Homo sapiens: one gene and its partner. The protein of the gene in region 1 interacts with the protein of each later gene in a biochemical or structural test. Each region holds a gene or a part of one and is shown on either strand. Other genes may lie near its edges.

Region 1 (8,702 bases):
TGCGAACCTCCTTGGTGCTCTTCTGCAATGTTGCATGTTTGTCCCCAAGGCGCTTCACCAGTGAGGCCAGGAGCTTGCGCTGGTTCCTCACTGCATCCTCTAAGAACTGGTACCTGAGAGCAGACAGATGTGTTCCTGAGCACTAAGCTACGGAAGGGGTGGCACCCACCCACCCAACCACTATGCCTTGGGACTCACTGGTGGTCCTTGTGGGCATTGAGCTGGCAGTCTCGGCAGGTGAGAGTATCACAGCTCTCACAAAACAGCACAAGGGGTTCATGCTTGTGTACGTTGCAATAGACAGTACGTTCACCATCCCGAGACTTGGCTGGCCCTGGGGAGTGGGAATCATAAGGCTGGACCTTGCCCTTCACCACCCCCAACTCAGGAAGCAGAATGAGTTGGGGCCTCATTTCCGGCCTGTTCTGTGACACTGGGCCATTTATTGGGAAGATGTAGAGGGTGTGGCCAGGGAAGAACACAGGCCTGCAAGCCCAACTCCTTGCTCCCAGAATCCTCTGCCCCAACATAGCTGAGAAACACATCCCTTTCTTCTAGCTTCTAGAGATAACAACAATGTAAGGGTAAGGATAACAGCGTCTAGAAAAAGAGGACCACCCCACCCCACCCCCCACCCCCGCTGACCCTTCCCCACACTGTTCCCTTTACTGAACACTTCTCCAAGTGGACATACTCAGAATTCTGCCTACACACCACCCTGGATTCCTTTTCTTCTCCTTTCATGGTTAACTTCCTCCCTCTTCCCTGACAAGAGAACACCAGGGTCTCTTACAATCCAAGGGCCCAGAGGAAACCTTGTAGAGGTTCTCATACTGGGAGAGATGAAATGTCAAACCAGGACCCTCAGAATGGTGGTCACACCCCCTCTAGAGCAGAATCTTGGTGCTCAGCATAATCCCACCCAAAGACCAACCCATTAATAACCTCCAAAGCCTGTCTCCCCATTAGAAAACTGATCAAACACACTGGTCCCACATACCAACCAAATCCAAAATATGTAGCATCAGGGCTCATTGGGGAAACTGACTTCCCCAATGCCACTCATTCCTGCACCCTGACCTTTGCCTGGGACGTCTGGAATGTAGGACACCCTGCAGCCCCTGCGTATCCCTCCTGGCTGCTCAGGCCCCACAGCCACCACCTTCCCGCTATCTTCCACCAATGCTGTCCTCTGGGATGGGAAGAATCACAGTATGGCTACCAAAAGGCCACTCATGGGAGGATTCTGGCCCCAAAACTTGGCTAGACTCAAAAGACTCTCAAGCTCCTTCCAAACCAAAGCTAGCTGTGTCTGTGAAAAGCTGGAAATGCCAAACCAAACTTTGGGTAAGTCTCTGCCAACTCAAAAGCTAAAACACTTCCAAAAATCATCATCACTTATAATCCATGGACCCACAGTCTACTTTCCCTAGCAGCATCTTATACCAGATGTGTGCCAGGGAACCACAAACCCAGAAAGCCCTTCACACCATGCCTTTCCCTGTTTGCATATGCTGAGCCCTTCACCACCAGGTCTGACAACTCCCTGATAAGCCTTCTCAAACCCTTTGTACCTCCCTGCAGCACATTAAGGTCTCCCTTATTTCCCCTTCCCACCCTCTCCCACCTAGGCCCTAGAGACTACACACCACAACCCCAGTTTTTCTGCTTCTGGAGTTCTGCCCTCGGGCCCTTCGGGCGGCACCCCCTAGAGAACTCTAGGACCCATCCACCAGATGCAACCAACATCATAAAAGCAACTGAGGGCACACATGGGAGAACAACTCCAACAGCCCCCCTCAGCCTCATGTACCAGTAGAGCGCACAGTATGGTCCTTGGTGTACTTCACCCGCTGGTGCGCCTCTACACAGGTCTCACACAGAGGCTCCGAGCACTCCACACAGTAGCTGGTGGCTGGGGCATTATCCTCACAGCTAGTGCAGCACTGCCAGACAAAGGCAGGGTCAGAGAAGGCAAGACAACTTGATAGATCCACGTTTACATCCCAGAAAATACAACCGGAGATTTAAGATTGGTCCCTTGACCCAACCTAGGCAGCCCACCCAGAGCCTTGGGAAAGTGGAGTAACAGCCTGGAGCTGGTGCCAAGCTCCTCCTGCGCAGATGCCCCCTCCCCAGAAACCTCCTTGTGGTTGCTGAGATAGGACGCACCTGGTTCGCATCCTGGGCGTCGGTGGCAGCCTTGCTGCCACTATCACGCATGAAATAATTCTCCACGATGTCTTTGGAGAAGCACTGTTGCTTGCACACGGGACAGTCCACCACTTCGAGAAGCAGGGATGTGGGAGACTGTTACAAGTTCCCACCCAGGTTATGGCCCCCACCATTCCCCTGCTGGGTGGGCCCCCGACCATTATCCCGCAGCGAACCAGCCCCTCCCCTCCCCGAGCCTTCTTTTCTCCAACTTTAGTCAGATGTCCCATCTCAGCGGCCAGCACAAACCCACGTTCGTATGCAGGACCCAGAAAGTATTTCCCGTGCCCTGTCCGGGCCCCCATCCTCTCGCCCAGGTGGCATCCTCATCTCTGCACCCAGTCGGAATCAAAGGCAGAGAGTAGGGGGAGGGGTGGCACCGATCACTTCGTACTTACCGGTGCCGTCGCCCGCCGCCCCGCCGTCCCCCGAGCTGTTGGCGGCGGCGGGGGCCGCGGGCCCTAAGCAGGCACTACAGGCCGAGTGCAAACAGGGCAGCAGGCGGGGCTCCCTCTCGGGTCGCAGGCGCTCTCTGCACACGCCGCAGTGCTCCAGCAGCTCCAGCGCCTCGGCGCCGCCCCCCGCGGGCGACGACGCCGCGGCTGAGGCAGAGGCCGAGGCTGCGGCCGAAGGGGCGGTGGAGCGCTTTTCGCCGCCAGCGGAGCCCTCGCCCGGGCCCGGGCTGCCAGAGGCGGCCGAGGCCGCTGCTGCCGAGGCTGCCGCCGCGGAGGCCGCCATTCACACGCCGCCGGGGGCGCCCAGGGGGGGAGGAGGGGCGCGGGGCCCGCCGCGCAGGCGCAGACGCGCTCGCCGCCAACTGCTGGGCCGCTGCCGCCGCCGCCGCCGCGAGGCCGAGCGCCGCCACGCGCCTCCTGGGCCGCTGCCCGCCGCGCGCGGGACGCTGCTACGGCACGGCCAACTGCTGCCTGCTCGCCTCCCGAAGGCGCCGCCCGCGCTTCTTCCTCAGCCGCCGCCGAAACCCGCACCACGCGCCACAAGCACAAGCACAACCGCTCGCCCGCGCGCCCGCTCGCAGAAAGAGCCGAGGCCGGGGGGCGGGACAGAAATAACTGGCGCCGACGCCGCCGCGCACGCGCATTGGGCGCCTCACGCCCGGGGGCGGGGCCCAGGCCGGTCGGTGCGGGAGAGGCCGCCAGTACGCACGCGCCAACTCCTAGTCCTTCCACCACCGCCAACCCCACGTCGGTGGGGCTCTTGTGGGGGCGGGGCGGGGCCTCTGTGACGTCACTGCCGCAATTGAATCCGCCAGTGGGGTATGCGAACCTTTATAGAGTGTGATTCCCCTCTCAGCTCCACCTCCAGACCACACAGAAGCGGGCCGCTGTGCGCCCAAGCGCATGGGCAATCCGTCCCTCTTCCTCAACCCGCGTCTCTTCGCCGCCGTAGAGTCGTCTCCAGCCTCTGCGTCACTAAGAGTTCGGGATAGGGGGCAGGGCCGATGGAGAAGTAGGCGGGGCCAAGACCGAGTGAAGGGCTGTGTCCAGGGAGAGGGGAGGAGAGTCTCCATCCCAAGAGGGAGGAAGCTCCTGTGTGAGCTCGGGTGCTGACTTTTGGATTTTAACCACGCTATAGTTAAACTTGAGAAACACAGAAACTTGACTGAATCAAATGTAGATCACAGCCGGGCGCCGTGGCTCATACCTGTAATCCCACCACTTTCTTAGGCGAGTCGGGAAGCTCCGTTTAGCCCAGGAGGCCGAGGCAGCAGTGAGGCGGGATTGTGCCACTGCACGCCAGCCTAGACCACAGATGGAGAAAAATGTGGCCGGGCGCGGCGGCTCACGCCTGTAATTCCAGCACTTTGGGAGGTCGAGGCGGTTGGATCTTAAGTCAGGAGTTCGAGAGCAGCCTGGCCAACGTGGTGAAACCCCGTCTCTACTAAAAGTACAAAAAGTAGCCGGGCGTGGTGGCAGGCGCCTGTAATCCCAGCTACTCGGGAGGCTGAGGCAGGAGAATCGCTTGAACCCGGGAGGCGGAGGTTGCAGTGAGCCGAGATCGTGCCATTGCACTACAGCCTGGGAGAAAAGAGTGAAACTCCATCTCAAAAGAGGAGAGAAAGGTTTTTGTGTTTGTTTTGAGACGGAGTTTTGCTCTGTTGCCCAGGCTGGAGTGCAGTGGCACGATCTCGGCTCGCTGCAACCTCCGCCTCCCGGGTTCAAGCGATTCTTCTGCCTCAGCCTCCCGAGTAGCTGGGATTACAGGGGCCTGCCATCACGCCTGGCTAATTTTTGTATTTTTAATAGAGACGGGGTTTCACCACGTTGGCCAGGCTGGTCTCGAACTCCCGACGTCAGATGATAGACCCACTTTGGCCTCCCAAAGTGCTGGAATTACAGGTGTGAGCCACCACGCCGGGCCCCCCAACCCCCCATCAAGAAAAAAAATATATATATATATATACACATATATATAAATCACAAGAGGCTAAAGAGCAATGAGTCTGTGAAATCCCACCCAGCCCCCCAAGGCATCCCCTCCCCATGTTTTCGTCAGCAGCTACCCTGACTTTGATGCTTTTCCAGATGGGGAAACTGAACCTCAACAGTGGGGAATCCCAAGGAGGGAAGGAAGCAGGTCCATGTGGGGAGAATCCTGTCTGAGGTGGAAAGTAGGGTTTGTGTGGGGAAAATCCTGTCTGAGGGAAAGAGGGTGTGTGTGCGGAGGGGAACCCTGTCTGAGGAGGGAAGCAGGGTCTGTGTGGGGAGAATCCTGTCTGAGGAGGGAAGCAGCGTCTGTGTGGGGAGAATCCTGTCTGAGGAGGGAAGCAGGGTGTGTGTGGGGAGAATCCTGTCTGAGGAGGGAAGCAGGGTGTGTGTGGGGAGAATCCTGTCTGAGGAGGGAAGCAGGTTCTGTGTGGGGAGAATCCTGCCTGAGGAGGGAAGCAGGGTCTGAGTGGGGAGAATCCTGTCTGAGGGAAGCAGGGTCTGTGTGGGGAGAATCCTGTCTGAGGAGGAAAGTAGGGTGTGTGTGGGGAAAATCCTGTCTGAGGGAAAGAGGGTCTGTGTGGGGAGGGGAGCCCTGTCTGAGGAGGGAAGCAGGGTCTGTGTGGGGAGAATCCTGTCTGAGGAGGGAAGCAGGGTGTGTGTGGGGAGAATCCTGTCTGAGGAGGGAAGCAGGGTGTATGTGGGGAGAATCCTGTCTGAGGAGGGAAGCAGGGTGTGTGGGGGGAAAATCCTGTCTGAGGGAAAGAGGGTCTGTGTGGGGAGGGGAATCCCTGTCTGAGGAGGGAAGCAGGGTCTGTGTGGGGAGAATCCTGTCTGAGGAGGGAAGCAGGGTGTGTGTGGGGAGAATCCTGTCTGAGGAGGGAAGCAGGGTGTGTGGGGTGAGAATCCTGTCTGAGGAGGGAAGCAGGGTCTGTGTGGGGAGAATCCTGTCTGAGGAGGGAAGCAGGGTCTGTGTGGGGAGAATCCTGTCTGAGGAGGGAAGCAGGGTCTGTGTGGGGAGAATCCTGCCTGAGGAGGGAAGCAGGGTCTGTGTGGGGAGAATCCTGTCTGAGGGAAGCAGGGTCTGTGTGGGGAGAATCCTGTCTGAGGAGGAAAGTAGGGTTTGTGTGGGGAAAATCCTGTCTGAGGGAAAGAGGGTCTGTGTGGGGAGGGGAGCCCTGTCTGAGGAGGGAAGCAGGGTCTGTGTGGGGAGAATCCTGTCTGAGGAGGGAAGCAGGGTGTGTGTGGGGAAAATCCTGTCTGAGGAGGGAAGCAGGGTCTGTGTGGGGAGAATCCTGTCTGAGGGAAGCGGGGTGTGTGTGGGGAGAATCCTGTCTGAGGAGGGAAGCAGGGTGTGTGTGGGGAGAATCCTGTCTGAGGAGGGAAGCAGGGTGTGTGTGGGGAGAATCCTGTCTGAGGAGGGAAGCAGGGTGTGTGTGAGGAGAATCCTGTCTGAGGAGGGAAGCAGGGTCTCTGTGGGGAGAATCCTGTCTGAGGAGGGAAGCAGGGTGTGTGTGGGGAGAATCCTGTCTGAGGAGGGAAGCAGGGTGTGTGTGGAGAGAATCCTGTCTGAGGAGGGAAGCAGGGTGTGTGGGGGGAGAATCCTGTCTGAGGAGGGAAGCAGGGTGTGTGGGGGGAGCCCTGTCTGAGGAGGGAAGCAGGGTGTGTGTGGGGAGAATCCTGTCTGAGGAGGGAAGCAGGGTGTGTGGGGGGAGAATCCTGTCTGAGGAGGGAAGCAGGGTGTGGGGGGAGAATCCTGTCTGAGGAGGGAAGCAGGGTCTGTGTGGGGAGAATCCTGTCTGAGGAGGGAAGCAGGGTGTGTGTGGGGAGAATCCTGTATGAGGAGGGAAGCAGGGTGTGTGGGGGGAGCTTCCTGTCTGAGGAGGGAAGCAGGGTGTGTGGGGGGAGAATCCTGTCTGAGGAGGGAAGCAGGGTGTGTGGGGGGAGAATCCTGTCTGAGGAAGGAAGCAGGGTGTGTGTGGGGAGCATCCTGTCTGAGGAGGGAAGCAGGGTGTGTGGGGGGAGAATCCTGTCTGAGGAGGGAAGCAGGGTGTGTGTGGGGAGAATCCTGTCTGAGGAGGGAAGCAGGGTGTGTGGGGTGAGAATCCTGTCTGAGGAGGGAAGCAGGGTCTGTGTGGGGAGAATCCTGTCTGAGGAGGGAAGCAGGGTCTGTGTGGGGAGAATCCTGTCTGAGGAGGGAAGCAGGGTCTGTGTGGGGAGAATCCTGCCTGAGGAGGGAAGCAGGGTCTGTGTGGGGAGAATCCTGTCTGAGGGAAGCAGGGTCTGTGTGGAGAGAATCCTGTCTGAGGAGGAAAGTAGGGTTTGTGTGGGGAAAATCCTGTCTGAGGAGGGAAGCAGGATGTGTGGGGGGAGAATCCTGTCTGAGGAGGGAAGCAGGGTGTGTGTGGGGAGAATCCTGTATGAGGAGGGAAGCAGGGTGTGTGGGGGGAGAATCCTGTCTGAGGTGGGAAGCAGGGTGTGTGGGGGGAGAATCCTGTCTGAGGAGGGAAGCAGGGTGTGTGGGGGGAGCATCCTGTCTGAGGAGGGAAGTAGGGTCTGTGTGGGGAGAATCCTGTCTGAGGAGGGAAGCAGGGTGTGTGGGGGGAGCCCTGTCTGAGGAGGGAAGCAGGGTGTGTGTGGGGAGAATCCTGTCTGAGGAGGGAAGCAGGGTGTGTGGGGGGAGAATCCTGTCTGAGGAGGGAAGCAGGGTGTGGGGGGAGAATCCTGTCTGAGGAGGGAAGCAGGGTCTGTGTGGGGAGAATCCTGTCTGAGGAGGGAAGCAGGGTGTGTGTGGGGAGAATCCTGTATGAGGAGGGAAGCAGGGTGTGTGTGAGAAGAATCCTGTCTGAGGAGGGAAGCAGGGTGTGTGGGGGGAGAATCCTGTCTGAGGAGGGAAGCAGGGTGTGTGGGGGGAGAATCCTGTCTGAGGAAGGAAGCAGGGTGTGTGTGGGGAGAATCCTGTCTGAGGAGGGAAGCAGGGTGTGTGGGGTGAGAATCCTGTCTGAGGAGGGAAGCAGGGTGTGTGTGGGGAGAATCCTGTCTGAGGAGGGAAGCAGGGTGTGTGTGGGGAGAATCCTGTCTCAGGGAAGCAGAGTCTGTGTGGGGAGAATCCTGTCTGAGGAGGAAAGTAGGGTTTGTGTGGGGAAAATCCTGTCTGAGGGAAAGAGGGTCTGTGTGGGGAGGGGAACTCTGTCTGAGGAGGGAAGCAGGGTGTGTGGGGAGGGGAGCCCTGTCTGAGGAGGGAAGCAGGGTCTGTGTGGGGAGAATCCTGTCTGAGGAGGGAAGCAGGGTCTGTGTGGGGAAAATCCTGTCTGAGGAGGGAAGCAGGGTCTGTGTGGGGAGAATCCTGTCTGAGGGAAGTGGGGTGTGTGTGGGGAGAATCCTGTCTGAGGAGGGAAGCAGGGTGTGTGTGGGGAGAATCCTGTCTGAGGAGGGAAGCAGGGTGTGTGTGAGAAGAATCCTGTCTGAGGAGGGAAGCAGGGTGTGTGTGGGGAGCATCCTGTCTGAGGAGGGAAGCAGGGTCTCTGTGGGGAGAATCCTGTCTGAGGAGGGAAGCAGGGTGTTTGTGGGGAGAATCCTGTCTGAGGAGGGAAGCAGGTTCTGTGTGGGGAGAATCCTGTCTGAGGAGGGAAGCAGAGTGTGTGTGGGGAGAATCCTGTCTGAGGGAAGCAGGGTGTGTGTGAGAAGAATCATGTCTGAGGAGGGAAGCAGGGTGTGTGTGGGGAGAATCCTGTCTGAGGAGGGAAGCAGGTTCTGTGTGGGGAGAATCCTGTCTGAGGAGGGAAGCAGGGTGTGTGTGGGGAGAATCCTGTCTGAGGAGGGAAGCAGGTTCTGTGTGGGGAGAATCCTGTCTGAGGAGGGAAGCAGGGTGTGTGTGGGGAGAATCCTGTCTGAGGAGGGAAGCAGGGTGTGTGTGAGAAGAATCCTGTCTGAGGAGGGAAGCAGGGTGTGTGTGGGGAGAATCCTGTCTGAGGAGGGAAGCAGGGTGTGTGGGGGGAGAATCCCGTCTGAGGAGGGAAGCAGGGTGTGTGAGAGAAGAACTCT
Region 2 (7,900 bases), on another chromosome or scaffold:
TTTAAGCGTTCCTGCTTCTGTTTTCTGGAAGAGTTTGTTGTATAAAATTGGTATTTCTTCCTAAAAGGTTTGGTAAAATTCTTCAGTGAAGCCATCTGGGCTCAGAGTTTTCTTTTTCTTTTGAGACAGAGATTGCTCTGTTGCCCAGGCTGGAGTGCGGTGGTGCAATCTCAGCTCACTGCACCCTCCGCCTCTGAGGTTCAAGCGATTCTCCTGCCTCAGCCTCCCGAGTAGCTGGGACTACAGGAGCACACCACCATGCCTGGCTCATTTTTGTATTTTTAGTAGAGACGGGGCTTCACCATGCTAGCCAGGCTGGTCTTGAACTCCTGACCTCGTGATCCACCCACCTCAGCCTCCCAAAGTGCTGGGATTACAGGCATGAGCCATCATGCTTGGCCTGGGCCTGGCGTTTTCTTTGTGGGATTATTTCTATCTAAAAATCCCTTTTCCTTAATAGAGATAGGGCTAGTAAGGTTCTGACGTTTTCTTCTTTTTGCCTGTAGAGAGGTCTCATTATGTTTCCTGGGCTGGTCTTGAACTCTTGGCCTCCCAAAATGTTGAGATTACATGTGTAAGCCTCCATGCCCACCCAAGGTTCTGTATTTAAGTGAGTTTTGGTAGTTTGTCTTCAAGGAAGTTACTAACTTCAACTAAGACATTGAATGTATTCGTATCGTTTTTCAAAATATTCCCTTATTATCTGTAGGATCAATAGTGATATTCCTTAGTTCCTAATATTGTTAATTAGTATCTTTTTTCCTGATTTATCAATTTTATTGATCTTTTCAAAGAACTTTCCGTTTTTTTCTATTCTCTATTGTTCTATATCCCATTAATTGCTGCTTTTATCATTACTATTTTCTTGTTTATTTTGGATTTAATTTGTTCTTTTTCTAGGTTCACAGGGCCAAACCTGTCAGTGACCTGCTTTTGTTGTTAAAGTACTTAATGCTATAAATTTCCCTTTAAGCACTTCCTTAACTGCATCCCACAATTTTGTTTTGTTTTTGAGATAGGGTCTCTGCCACCCAGGCTCAAGTGCAGTGGCAGGATCATAGCTCACTGCAGCCTTGATCTCCCAGGCTCCAGTAAGCATCCCACCTCAGCCTCCCAACTAGCTGGGACTACTGGCAAACCACCACTCCTGGATACTTTTTAATTTTTTCTAGAGACTAGGTCTCACTATGTTGCCCAGGCTGGTCTTGAACTCCTGAGCTCAAGTGATCCTCTCGCCTCAGCTTCTCAAAGCGTTGAGTTTACAGGAATCAGTCACAGCACCTAGCCTCATTCTAAAAGTTTTGATATATCATCTTTTCATTTTCATTCAGTTCCAAGTATTAGTTTTCTTTGTAATTTCCTCTTTGTAGGTGGGTTACTTAGAAGTGTGTTGTGTAATTTCAAAATATTTAGGGATTTTTCTTGATGTCTTTGTTACTGATTTTTTATTTAATTGCACTATGATCAGGAAATAAACATACCTTGGCCAAGCACAGTGGCTCATGCCTGTAATCCCAGCACTTTGGGAAGCTGAGATGAGAGGATCACTTGAGCCCAGGGGTCTGACACCAATCCGGGCAACATAACGAGACCCTGTCTCTACAAAAAAAGAAAAAAGGGTGGGTGGCTGAGCATGGTGGCACATGCCAGTGGTCCCAGCTTTTCAGAAGGCTGAGGCAGGAGGATCACTTGAGCCCAGGAGTTTCAGGCTGCAGTGAGTTGATTGTGTCACTGCACTCCAGCTTGGGTGACAGAACAAGACCCCGTTTAAATTTTTTTAAAAAACCTTTATGATTGAATCCTTTTGAATTTGAGACTTATTGACCCAGAAGGTAAACTGTCTGTGTAAAAGTTCCATGTGCACCTGAAAAGCACATGTATTCTGCTGTTGCTTGTACTATTCTATAAATGTCAATTATATCAGGTTGTTGGTAGTGTTGTTCAAGTCTTCCGTTTCCTTACTGATTTCATCTACCTGTTTTATCAATTACTGAGAGGCACTGAAATTTCCAAATATAATTGCAGATGTCTGTTATTTCCTTTTTCTTTTCTTTTTTTGAGACGGAGTCTTGCTCTGTCACCCAGGCTGGAGTGCAGTGGCGCGATCTCCGCTCACTGCAACCTCCACCTCCCAGGTTCAAGCGATTCTCCTGCCTCAGCCTCCCAAGTAGCTGGGATTACAGGCGCACGCCACCATGCCCAGATAATTTTTGTATTTTTAGTAGACAGGGTTTCACCATGTTGGCCAGGCTGATCTGGAACTCCTGACCTCAGGTAATCCACCCACCTCAGCCTCCCAAAGTGCTGGGATTACAGGCGTGAGCCACTGCACCTGGCTTGTTACTTCATTTCTGTTTTCCTTTGTGTATGTTGAAGCTTTATTATTAGCTTTTAGGACATTTAGGATTGTTATGTCCGCTTGATGAATTTATTCATTTATTATATAACCTGGTGTTTGTTATTTGCCCTATCTCATAAGTCTATTATGGAAAAACAATAGGAAAATACTTTGGAAAATATATAGGAAACAGAAGGAAAAATGTTTAATAATCAAGGAAGTTAAAAAAATTTTAATGAATTTTCTTTATTATCTGTAAGTCTTATCCATGCTTGTCTCTACTTACATAAATGAGGTTTGCTATGTTTTATCAGATCTTAGGCATAATTTATTGTTGTGAAACACTGAACAAATTAGCAGTATATTACCCTCCACAACTCCCTGTGAGGTGAGTTGCACAGATTTAGGGATGAGAAACGAGGCACAGAGAGTTCAAGGATTTGTCTTAAAAACAAAACTTAAGATTTCCCAGCCTGTTAGTTGACCTCTTTAGTACAGGGCATTTTATTCCGACATAATTATATTTTATTCTGACATAATTATGCCCTCTGGCTCAGATATGAACTTGCTTTATTCTAAGAAACATAGATTACTATCAGAAAAATACTTGAATCCAATTTGGTTTCTCCTCTCCACAGAAGAAATAAATAATGAGTGTGTTATAAAACCTGATCTTGAAACGGTCCTTTCAAGTACACCATCTCAAGCTCATGGCTTTATCTAGTGTCCTTCCTAGCAATGAAACAGGATGGAACAGGCATTCAGTGAGTCTGAAGAGTAAGACTGCAAGTGAAAATTTTTACTCTATGACCTAGTTTCAGGTAGAAAAAAATCTGTCAGTGTTTAATTTTGATGAACTACTACTACTGGAAAGAAAATTCAGGCTACACAGTCTATAGTCTCACTAAAAATGTAGTGAAAATGTTCCAGCTAGTCTATTACATCCCTTGTAGAAAATCTTTTCTTCAGAAAGGTTTAAGCACACAGCTAACAAATACAGGTTAGTTATCCTGTGTTAATACCCCAAGGAGTTGACAGTCAGCCAACAGCTCAGTCTTCCATCCTTCAAGTCCTAGGCAAGAACAGGACTACCCTCACCCAAAATGTTGTAATTTGTAATGTTTTGATTCACATTTTAAATTATTGACTTAAAAAACAAACTCCAAGATGACTTAGGAATCACTTCATAAAGTCTTAGGTCTAGAAGGCTTGTTAACGATCACTTATCCAACTCCTTCCCTATAAGATAAAGAAACTAAGGACTAAAGAGGGCAAATGGCTCACCCATGGTTACACCATTAGATAATGGCAGAGGCAGGACAAGAACCCAGGTTTCTGAGCCTTTTTTCACTTGCCTCTGTTTCTTTAAAAATAACATTTTCTTTTCTGAATTAGCTCAAATCTATTTGGGTAGAGGTTAGGGAACCAATGTGTAGTGGTCTGAATGATGGCCCTCCCCCAAAGAGATTCTTATCTTAATCCCTTGAACCTGTAAATGTTATTTTATATAGCAAAAGATGTGATTAAAAGATGAATCCGGCCGGGCGCGGTGACTTATGCCTGTAATCCCAGCACTTTGGGAGGCTGAGGCAGGCGGATCACCTGATGTCAAGGGTTCTAGACCAGCCTGGCAAACTGGTGAAATCCTGTCTCTATCAAAAATACATAAATTAGCCGGGCACGGTGGCAGGCACCTGTAATCCCAGCTACTCAGGAGGCTGAGGCAGGAGAATAGCTTGAACCTGGGAGGCGGAGGTTGCAGTGAGCCAAAATCACACCAATGCACTCCAGACTGGGTGACAAAGCGAGACTCTGTCTCAAAATAAACATGAATCTACATTTTTTTTTCAGGGACCTGCCACTTTAGGAATAAAATATATTTTAAATCTGCTCTCTCAGGTTGAATTAAAAGATAGGATTGGAGAAATTTATCCTGGTTCATCCAAGTGGTTTCTTAATTGCAATCATATGTATCCTTATAATACACAGGTAGAGGGAGAGTTCTGATGCAAGTACTCAAAAGAGAAGACAATGTGAAAACAGAACAGAGAGATATGCCAAGGAATGCTGACCATAATCAGAAGCTAAAAGAGGCAAAGAACAGTCTCTCTCCTAGAGCCTCCAGAGGGGCCTCAATATCTTGATTGCAGACTTCTGGGCTCCAAAATTTTGAGAAGAATAAATTCCTCTTGTTTTAAACCACCAAGTCTGTGGTAATTTGTTATAGCAGCCACAGGAAACTAATACATAGGGGGAATAAAATTTTAAACATCATAAAGTGGACATATATAAAACATTACTGATCCAAAAAGAATTGTGTTTCAGATAACCCAAAGAATGTCTAAAACCTTTAATCCCTCATTTCAAAGGGTAAATTGAGGCTACTGCAGGATACAATTTGCCCCAAAGAAATTGGCAGATCTGAGAAGAGAAACTCAGAAAGATCTAATATTTACATAGCTGCTAACAAGAACAGTGTAGGTTTTTCTGCAAACATGCTAGTTGGTAGAGCTCCTGGACAGACTAAACATAGGCAGCAGTTGTCACAGTGGGTGTTCTTCCAGCACAAGTGTAAAGCTGTCATCAGAAATGAATATGTGGCTTCGAGTGGCTTACAGAAATCCAACAAATCTGCATCTTGGACTCTGGACAAGCGAACTCTTCTCAGGATGACCTGGACTCCTTCCTATTAGTACAATGATCAGTTAAAATCATTCTCTATAAGCAAGGAAGAAAAATAAAAGTTTATATCAGGAGAAAAAGATGATTGCCCAGAGTCCGAGTTCACGAATAGCAGATATGTAAACAGCCATACTAAGTCAAGTGGTATCTCATGTTGTAATTTATTACTTTTAAAATCAATATCCATAACACAGCTTTAGGCCCAGTTTCATGTAAGATGAATGGAAATAAAAATAATCTAAGTAAAAGGACAAAATAAAGACTAGAAATGCTTTACCAGGACAGTTATTAATTAAATGGGCTATACCAATAAGATATGGAAATCATGCTATGTGGTTAAAGACCTCAATAGAGCCGGGCACAGTGGCTCATGCCTGTAATTCTAACACTTTGGGAGGCCGAGGCGGTTGGATCATGAGGTCAGTAGATTGAGACCATCCTGGCTAACACGGTGAAATCCTGTCTCTACTAAAAATACAAAAAAATTAGCCAGGCATGGTGGCACGTGCCTGTAGTCCCAGCTACTCGGGAGGCTGAGGCAGGAGGATCGCTTGAATCCGGGAGGCAGAGGTTGCAGTGAGCCGAGATCACGCCACTGCACTCTAGCCTGGGTGACAGAGCGCGACTCTGTCTCAAAAACAAACAAATCTCAATAGAAACAAAAAGCGACTTAGTCTTCCTCAAAAATCTTTGTACCCTGATACCAAACCTTTCTCTTTTCTAGAGTATTGTTAAGGGCTCTGAGAATCTCCAGAATTTCCCTAGCCATATACAAATCCAGCCGCTTCAAATGTAGGCTCACTCTTTCTTTCCCCAACTATCATCCTGCTCACCTACTACCCAAATTGAAGCTTTCCACTTACTAGTTTTCAGACAGAATATATTCCCCTTTAGTAAACACCCCTTTTAGATTTGGTTGCAATAGTAGGTATGTCTCTAAGTTTTTTTTTCTTTTTTGAGACAGTCTCGCTCTGTCACCCAGGCTGGAGTACAGTGGTGCAATCTCGGCTCACTGTAACCTCCGCCTCCCAGGCTCAGCAATTCTCCTGCCTCAGCCTCCAGAGTAGCTGGGGCTACAGGCGTGTGCCACCACGCCCGGCTAATTTTTTGTATTTTTAGCGGAGATGGGGTTTCACCGTGTTAGCCAGGATGGTCTCAATCTCCTGAACTCATGATCTGCCCGCCTCGGCCTCCCAAAGTGCTGGGATTACAGGCATAAGCCACTGCGCCCAGGCAGTATGTCTCTAAGTTCTAAGCACAAGCGTTATAACTTCTGTAATTAGAGGCCCAACACGTATCACATTGGAAGTTAGGATTTCTAACTCTGTGATAGTACCAGAATTTCAATGAAAAATTACCCACTAAAATTTCACCACCAGAGAGAAAAGTTCATCATATCTATTAACTACCACATTGGAGGCTGGGCACAGTGGCTCACACCTGTAATCCCAGCACTTTGGGAGGCCAAGGCAGGCAGATCACCTAAGGTCAGGAGTTTGAGGCCAGCCTAACCAACATGGAGAAACCCCGTCTCTACTAAAAATTAGCCGGACGTATGCCTGTAATCCCAGCTACTCAGGAGGCTGGAGCAGGAGAATTGCTTGAACCTGGGAGGCGGAGGTTGAGGTGAGTCAAGATCGTGCCACCGCACTCCAGACTGGGCAACAAGAGCGAGACTCCATTCCAAAAAAAAAAAAAAAAAAAACCTATCACATTGGGAGACATTTTGCAATATTTTTATTGTTTTCCCTCTTTAAGCATTGTGAGACTTCACAATAAAACAAGCAGTTTTCACTTGCACACGACAGTAAACTAGAAAGTCTCGGTTTGGCTCCTATAATCTTTCAAAGTAAAACACATGAGTAAAAACACCAAATAATGGGTCACTGCTTAATCTGTTTACATAGATACTCCTTGATGGGGTTATGTCCTGATAAACCCATCATAGGTTGAAAATATGAAAAATTGAAAATTCATTTCCTACACCTAATCTACTGAACATCATAGCTTAGCCTAGCCTACCTTAAATGTGTTCAGAATACTTACATTAGCCTACTGTTGGACAAAATCACCTAACACAAAGCCTGTTTTATAATAAAGTGTTGAATATCTCATGTAATTGGTTGATTACTGTACCGAAAGTGAAAAACAGAATGGTTATGTGGATACTTGAAATATGGTTTCTACTGAATGCAAATTGCTTTCCACACCGTTGTAAAGGTGAAAAATCTTAAGTCGAAATATCACAAGCAAGGGACCATCTGTACAAGTGGCTGGGGCTGGAGATGGAAGGAACTGACTCAGAAAGCAATCAAAGTTGGCATGATTTGGTGACCTATTCTTCAGATCAGCAGTCTTTTTCCCCCAAAACCCTGGGTCTATAAACAGCTGTGAAATCAGTTCAATGGAAATTGACTGCTTTCTTAAGACAATGAAATAGTATACTGCAGACAAAAGAATATCAGAGTACTCTGCACGTTTAGTGAAATGTTTCAATGTGTGTACAGGATTAGTGTAAAATATATTTCTTATTGCGGTCAAAAAAGTTTTGAGACGTGGATCCAAAAGAATCCCAGGAAAAGAAAGAGGCTAGCTAGAATCAAGTGAAAAAGAAGGATGTGAGGCAAAGTCTACCTTCTTCAAAAACATATTTGCCATTATTTTAGGAAGCCAAACAAGGACAAGATGCAATCAATCGTATGTGTAAGTTTAAGCAGCAAAAAGTGGTAAAAACTTTTTTTTTCTGAGACAAGGTCTCACTCTGTCGCCCAGACTGGGGTGCAGTGGCATCATCTCGGCTCACTGCAAACTCTGCCTCCCAGGTTCAAGCGATTATCCCGTCTCAGCCTCCTGAGTAGCTGGGATTACAGGCGCCCACCA

Evidence for each region. The genes of interacting proteins can lie anywhere in the genome.
Region 2: the proteins of TRIM28 (region 1) and CBX5 form a complex in vitro, tested with the Homo sapiens proteins (6 studies listed by BioGRID, with this or other methods).

Annotation. Positions count from the first base shown.
Region 1 is NC_000019.10:58,539,008-58,547,709, reverse strand, and holds the start of TRIM28 (transcription intermediary factor 1-beta), read right to left. Parts: upstream 3,647-8,702; 5' UTR 2,953-3,646; coding exon 2,613-2,952; intron 2,286-2,612; coding exon 2,173-2,285; intron 1,947-2,172; coding exon 1,814-1,946; intron 335-1,813; coding exon 199-334; intron 114-198; coding exon 1-113. UniProt on the Homo sapiens protein: Nuclear corepressor for KRAB domain-containing zinc finger proteins (KRAB-ZFPs).
Region 2 is NC_000012.12:54,269,286-54,277,185, forward strand, and holds part of CBX5 (chromobox protein homolog 5), read right to left. Parts: intron 1-7,900. UniProt on the Homo sapiens protein: Component of heterochromatin that recognizes and binds histone H3 tails methylated at 'Lys-9' (H3K9me), leading to epigenetic repression. In contrast, it is excluded from chromatin when 'Tyr-41' of histone H3 is phosphorylated (H3Y41ph).